2 linked regions of the Homo sapiens genome follow. The protein of the gene in region 2 interacts with the protein of the main gene of each other region in a pairwise test. Each region holds a gene or a part of one and is shown on either strand. Other genes may lie near its edges.

What was found.
Region 1: the proteins of CTNND1 (region 2) and SYNGAP1 interact in binary tests that used the Homo sapiens proteins (3 or more experiments, as listed by UniProt).

The regions. Positions count from the first base shown.
Region 1 is NC_000006.12:33,444,065-33,447,883, reverse strand, and holds part of SYNGAP1 (ras/Rap GTPase-activating protein SynGAP), read right to left. Parts: intron 3,441-3,819; coding exon 3,267-3,440; intron 1,310-3,266; coding exon 1,098-1,309; exon of another isoform or gene 1,086-1,097; intron 55-1,085; coding exon of another isoform or gene 42-54; coding exon 1-41. UniProt on the Homo sapiens protein: Major constituent of the PSD essential for postsynaptic signaling. Inhibitory regulator of the Ras-cAMP pathway.
Region 2 is NC_000011.10:57,816,642-57,820,080, forward strand, and holds the end of CTNND1 (catenin delta-1), read left to right. Parts: 3' UTR 1-2,899; downstream 2,900-3,439. UniProt on the Homo sapiens protein: Key regulator of cell-cell adhesion that associates with and regulates the cell adhesion properties of both C-, E- and N-cadherins, being critical for their surface stability.

The sequences.
Region 1 (3,819 bases), on a different chromosome or scaffold from region 2:
CGGGGTGGTCCCGGCGCAGCTCCTCCTCCACCAGCATCAGCCTGAAGGGACGGGCTTCAGTGGGGTTAGTGGCGGGCACAGGCTCAGAGCCTGCCCATGGAACCCCATAGCTCTCTGGAAAAACCTCAGGCATCCTTATCCCTTAGAATCAGAGTCCCTCCATTGCCGTGATGCAAGACTCCCTGTTCCTCAGGATCATGCTCTCCACCTTCCTCCCAGGAACCCTTACACCTCCCTGCTAAGGCAGCTTTCTGTGCCTCAAAGACTTCTACCATCCAGACACCTCCAGGCCTCCATCGTCCCAATCAGGACAGCAGTGCCCCTTCCCCAGACCTTCCATGGCTGAGGACCTGGCTTCTGCATCCCCCATGTCACCTCACTGTGAAGATCCTCGAGGTGATTTATCATAAAGGATATCAATTAGAGCAGTGGTTTTCAAAAAATATTTCAAGAAGCCCTTTTCTTCTAATTAAATCTTACATAAAATACATTTAGAATGGATCAAAATGGAGGTGGCTCTGGTTGGAGTGCGCCCAGGGTCCCCCCCACCCCGACCCCACCACTCTGAAGATAATTGACCTCTTTGCTGAGGATACCCTCTTTGGAGCCCAGGACTTGCTGGAGCAGCTGAAAACATACACAGGCTAAAAGACCCTTTCTAACAGAACACCTTTCCAAGGCTAGAGAGGGAGGGTCCACCCAGGAAGGGCAGGGCCTACTCTGGCTAGGGAGCCCTGCTTAGGTTTGGAGTGAACATCACAGGTTAAGTTGAGAATAACTAGTGGGGAGCTCTGGCCTAGGGTAAATGCAAATGCAGTGATGGTTGGACAGGAACAGGTACATTTTCCAAGGGCTTCCGAAGCTACTCTATCAGAAGAGAGGTCAGGGTTTGGTAAAGAGATATTTAATGCACTAAGCAGGTTGGGGTTTCTCTCCATCTGGTGATGAGTGAGTGGGTGGCTTCCTGGGGAGGAGAGTGGTGGGCTCTCCTGGTGGGCTCCTGAGTTTGGGGATGGGAGTCAGCGGAGTAGCTCACCCACTTGCTCTCTCCAGCCTCAGGCTCTCCCTCACAACCCCCTCCCCAGGCCGCCCCTCACCTGCCAATGATGCTCTTGATCTGGGAATCCTTCTCTGCCTGCTGCTGCCTTAGCCTCTTCTCACTCTGCTCCAGTCGGGCCTGATACTGCATCAGGATTTTGCTGGTTTGTTCTTCCTGGGACAGCAGCCTCCGCTCATACTCTTCCAGCTTCCGGTTGGACATGTGCAGCCGCTCTTTCAGTGAGTGAATCTCCTCCTCGTACTCCTTCACCTGCCCGCCGGGCACACGACCCCGCACTATGAGGGGCGCCCCACCCCAAGCCCACCACCCAGCCTCCATCCCTGTCTGCCAAGCACAGCCACTGCATGTTGAGGGACATCCAGCTGCCTTCCCCAACCCCTTCCCTGCCTGTGGATCATATCCACACACCTGCTTTTGAGAAGACCCTGCCATGGTGCTGAGGTTCCCTCAAAATGGAGCAAGGTCACAGACTCCCACACCCTGAGGTCTATGTATGGCCCCTCATGAAGACCCACACAGAAACCTACACTCACAAACACACCTTGAGTAACTGTGCTCAGAAATTAAAAATAGGGTGACTCTTCAGCCCTAAGCCAGGCCCCAGAACACATGCTGGAGACATAGGAAGAAAAGGCAATTGACGGGGGAAAGGCAGGTGCTGTCCTCCATGTGACCCTCTCCTTGGCTCTGTCAAGGTGCCAAGGATAGGAGGTCTACAAGTGAATTCTAGGCTGAGAATCTAGGAATTCCAGAGCTGGAAGAGCTCAGAAGAGTCATTTTATCTGCCCTATTGGCTCTAGAGTCTACAGCTGTGCTGTCTAATATGGTAGCCACCAGCCCACATGTAGCTATTTAAAATTTAGGCCAGGCACAGTGGCTCAACACCTGTAATCCCAGCACTTTGGAAGGCTGAGGCAGGTAGATCACTTGAGCTCACAAGTTCTAGACCAGCCTGGGCAACATGGCAAAACCCCGTCTCTACAAAAAAAAAAAAAAAAAAAAAAGAAAAGAAAAAAAACTAGCCAGGCATGGTAGCACGACCCTGTAGTCCTAGCTACTCAGGGGGCTGAGGTGGGAGGATGTCTTGAGCCCAGGAGGCGGAGGTTGCCTCGAGCCATGTTTGCACCACTGCACTCCAGCCTGGGTGACAGAGCAAGACCCTGTCTCAAAAAAATTACAAAATTAAAATTAAATAGATCTAAAAATTCAGTTCCTGAATCACAACTAGACACATGTGAACACTACAGATTACAGAACATTTCATCACTGCAGAAAGTTATATTGGATAGTGCTAGTCTACAGCCTTTCTCAACAAGGTTTCCTCATCTGAAGCACAGAAAAAAAAATGATTCAAAAGACTATTTCCTCATTCTCTGAAGAGGATACATACATATATCACCAACCCTTCTACATGCAGAGGAGAGATGTGAATTAACTTCCTACGGTGGCTGCCTTGGGGCTAATATTAGGGTTTAATTCTCATTAAATTTGCTGGTCAAGCCCATCTGAGTCAGTCCCAACATTTCCTATGCTCAAAGACCACTTCCCCGTGTTAGGATCATATGTTCTTTATATATGACCTAATCCTGCAGCCGCCCTCTTCCTCAGGCCCTAGGAACAACAGCTTCCTCAAGTAACTTTCTGCTAAGTTATCTGTGTTAGCCCCAGAGCTCTTGGTGCCCTTTGCCCTCAGCCTCCACCAAGTGAGGGTCTGGATGGTCTTTTCACACATGACTGATACATACTACTTTACCACATGCATTCCCTGCCCACTGACTGTCACTTATGCCCATGGGACAGTGACTGGGTAGGCCAGACATCACTTGTAATATAGCTGCAACCCCCTCCATCCCCATCCAATTTATTAGCTCCTACTGCCAGTAAAGTAACATTTCCTTTCCTAAGCAGTCACAGGAGCCAGGGCTTATGTTCCTCCTGGGGAAGAACATGGAGGTAAGCCTAAAATAGATGATCCCCAGATAGTCTATGATATATATAACCTACAAAATAGAGTTGAAAGTGACTTTTAACAACTGTGTGTATCTGGTCTCCCCAGATGGACGGAAGGCTTCTCAAGAGGTGATCAGGTCTTTGCCTTTTCTTACCACCATAACTGACCCTGGAGGTTTCCCTTGGAAGTGACTAGAGATCTCCCCTGTGGGTAAAAGGAAACACTGGGGCTTGGAGCTGGTAGAGCCCATCGTACCCTATCCAGCCGGCTCTCATCCATCGATTTTGAGTACTCCTTGAGCTTGTACTCTTCCCGCTCGATGTGGGCACTCTCGATGTCAGCCGACAGGTGAGGCATGTTGGAGACCCAGGCCACTGTCCGCTCAGAGGCTGGCATTGTGGGGTTCAATGTGGATGGTGTCTGAGAATGCTGGGACAAGGCACAGTGAGGGCGAACAGAGAAAGAAAAGGTGGGAAAAAGCAGGGTACATTTAGAGGGCAACAGCACAGCCAAAGGAGACGACAGTCCCAGTCCTATTGCCCTGCTGTAGCCTTTATCACCTCTGAATGCCAGAGATGTGAGTTGAATGCCAGAGAATTTCTCCTGTTGTTCTGATTCAGGATCTGATCTTCATGCCTCCAAGCCCCCAGCTGGCCCTATTCCAGTCACCCCCATTCTACTTATGGATTAATCCCCTCTGGAATGAGAGTGCTAAGAGGGTTCAGTGCCGTATCCTTAGTGCCTGGCATAGCACATGGCACATAGCAGGCCCTCTATACACATTTGTTTAATGGCCAAAAGGAGGCAA
Region 2 (3,439 bases):
GAGAGAATAGGAATCTTCACTAGAAGCCGTGGGAAGAATTGGAAGTTACATGCTGTATATGCAATGTCCAGCAGTCTGATAAACTGACGATTCTTAATCAAGATTTTTTTCCTGATGGGGAAGGGACTTTTATTTTCTTTTAGAGAGGGGAAAGTGTGAGCTCTTCCCTTATTCCTAATGGCTATTTTTGAAGCAAAGAAGGCCAGCAACATTGGCACATGCCACCTGGCAAAGGACCCTTGAGTAAGTGAAGGTCTCCTAAAACTGGGATTAAGAAACCTTGCTCTCCTCATCTCCAAGGCAGGGACCATCAAGAACCTACAGACTCCATCTCTTCTGCAAGCCTCATGCCAACCCTGGGCTATTGCTGCTGCCCCTTAAACACAGGCTGTCCTTAACCCACCTCTCCTGCCCTGTGATATGTCTGCTGAGTTGGCCTGGCCATTTCCAAGAGGCTGTAGAAAGGGGAGAATGTCAAGGAAGACTTTTGGTAGAGAAGGAGCAGAAAGATGTGTTTTTGGGAAGAAGAAGACCTCTAGGAGGAGCTAGTAGGAATGTACATGAAGCAATTAGTCTGAAACTGGCTTCCCCACTCCCCCGTTTCTCCTTTTCCTATCCTTATAGGCCTGTCCCTTGCCTCTGCCCTGGATTGGTTGGCAAACTAAAGGACTTGATGTACATAACTCCTGTCCCTTTTCCCTTACAAGGTGGGGATTGCCCCTGGCTTTGCCTCTTCTTTGTGCCTTTGGCCTGGGGTGCATCTCCTCCCGCCCTTCCATGTGCCTTTCTTTGCCTCTGCAGTCTCATTTCTCATAATTTTGCAAATTATATTTTGTTGCTTTCTTACCTACTATTGGCCCTAAATAGCAGAAAGAAGAGAAGTGACCGAGAGAACCTCAGATTCTTCATTGAGGATTGGTATAGCCATGATTTCAGTCATAGCAAGCTTTTGCTCAACAGCATATGGGTGGGATTTTGCAAAAATCCTATTCTGATGAATCTCAAAGTAAGGCTGGTAAGAGAAGTGAGTGGTGTGACTCTTACTCCTTAGGTGCCCAGAATTTACCATCATCTCTGAAGGAGTTACAGGGAAGTGGTCTCCCCAATTCTCCCCTCCCTCCAGTATTGCCCCCTCTCACTTTAGCATATATTAATTAGCAGGTTGGGCTAGAGAAATCAGCTGCTATGCGGGTTGATTATTATTATTATTTCTAATCCTTTTCCTTATTTGCCTTCTACTCCCCTTAATCTAATCTAAAAGCTCTGTTCCATGCAACTGGAGTTCCTTATCCCTCTCTTCCCCTTCCCTTATATATTGAGGCTATGGGGTAGGAGAAAAGTGCACAACCCACCACCCCCTTTACTCGTGCATTAAAATTTCTTATTTACCCTTTTCCCCCTTCCCATTTCTTCCCACTTTCATCTACCTTTTCTGGCAAAAAGGAGCCTTTTGCTCTCTGTGACCCTAAGAGCACACTGCACAGGGAAAATTGCCCCATCCAGACCTGGCTCCACTCTTGATCTCTCTTGTCCTCTTCTGCTCTTTTCCTGGTGCTCTTTTTTCTCGGTGGGGTGTGGGTAATAGAACAGCCGTGGGCTTTTGGGGACCTTTAACTTTTTTTTCTCTCTTTTGTTTATAAAAAACACTAAACATTCAATTCCAGAGAACCAAAAATCCCACCTTCCCACCGAACACTACTAAGGGGCTTGTGTTCTGCTCCATACCTTTTCTCTTTTCTTTCTGTCTTGTTAATGCTTTTAAAAACAAATGAGTTTTTTATATAAATAAAGTTTTTAAAGTGTGTATGTGGGGGGTCTGTGTCATTTCTTCACTTCAAGCTGTTATTTCTTCCCTGCTTTGCATCTTTGTTACTTCCTTATGTATCAGTGTCCTTTCCAGAGCAACCAGAAGGAGGTTATACCAGGATTTATTTTGAGCTCAGCCCCAACTCTTTATCAAGCAACATTCTTGTTAACTATATGTGAAACATTTTTTCTTCTGAAGATTCTTAAAAATTGAATGTGGCTGAAGTTGAACATGGGAGCTTATTGCTAATTTAGAGATAGGAAACTGAAGCATAAAGAATTAATGACTTACTTTAATTACTGGAATTCTTCTGCAACATTTGACAAAACTAACCTTGAATAAGGCCCACTGTAATACGTAGCTCTCTTAAATATAACACTTAGGACTAGAAGATTAGAAACTACCAATCCCAACTACGTAATAGGAAAATGTAGGATCAAAAGGCCCATGTATATAAGTACTGACCACTGGGCCATAATGTTGCTTCTCAGGCTATATGCAGTCCTTTAGTCAGAAGTCAATAGGCCTATTTATTAATATTTTACAGACCATATTACCTGGATTACCAGGGACTATCTTTGCTGCAGAGATCAAGGGTTAAGATCTATGGGAAGATACTTATTTTTCTGAGGTCCTTATGTCCTGTCATATAATTAAAGACTCAAGAGAATTTATGTGAAATGCTTTCTGTATGCCCAAATCTTTAGATTAAAATTATATAGCTGCTCCTGATGATGGTCCTGTCTTGTTTTATTGAACTAGGACTTGGGTATGAAAACTTTCATGGGCTAGTGAGACCAGGAAATCAACTAGCTTTTAAAGCTTGATTTGTGTCTAACAATTGTAGTGTTAGATTAGAGGTTGAAGTACAAAGCCAAAAAGCTATTAAGAGTTTACTTTCCAAAGAGTTTTGATAGCCCTGCTTGAGATGATTTTTATCTAAATAGAAAAGCCTGGCTGCTTGTCAGCAACACTTTATTTCCCTGTTATGTTCTTATCCTTTGGCATTGAGCTAGATACAAACCCTACTCTTCTCTCTTCCTTCTGGATTGGTCCATTTGTTTATCTCATTCAATAAATATTTGCCAAGCACCTCCTATATGCTAAGCGTTGTGTCAAGGTTAGGTTTAGATTAGAGAGTGAAACAGATGGATCTTTTCTCATAGATTGCAATCCATGAGAATCCTCTATAGCTAAGATCTATGATCAGACGAGATCGTGTGCGTTCAGGGTGATATGGCCATAGACAAGATCTATGATCTTAAAAACACTTCTCTCTGTGCCATATCTAAATACAATGAGATGTTACACAGAATGATGTGTAAAGGCCCTATCTCACAAGTTTCTTGACACTGATGTACTTTGTGACAGAGGTCAAAGCTGGGACCTCACTTGGCCACTTTTTTTTTTTTAGACAGAGTCTTGCTCTGTCACTCAGGGGCACAATCTCGGCTCACTGCAACCTCAGCCTCCTGGGTTCAAGCGATTCTTCTGCCTCAGCCTCCCGAGTAGCTGGGATTACAGGTGTGTACCACCACGCCTGGCTAATTTTGTATTTTTAGTAGAGACAGGATTTCACCATGTTGGCCAGGCTGGTCTCAAACTCCTGACCTCAAGTGATCCACCCTTCTT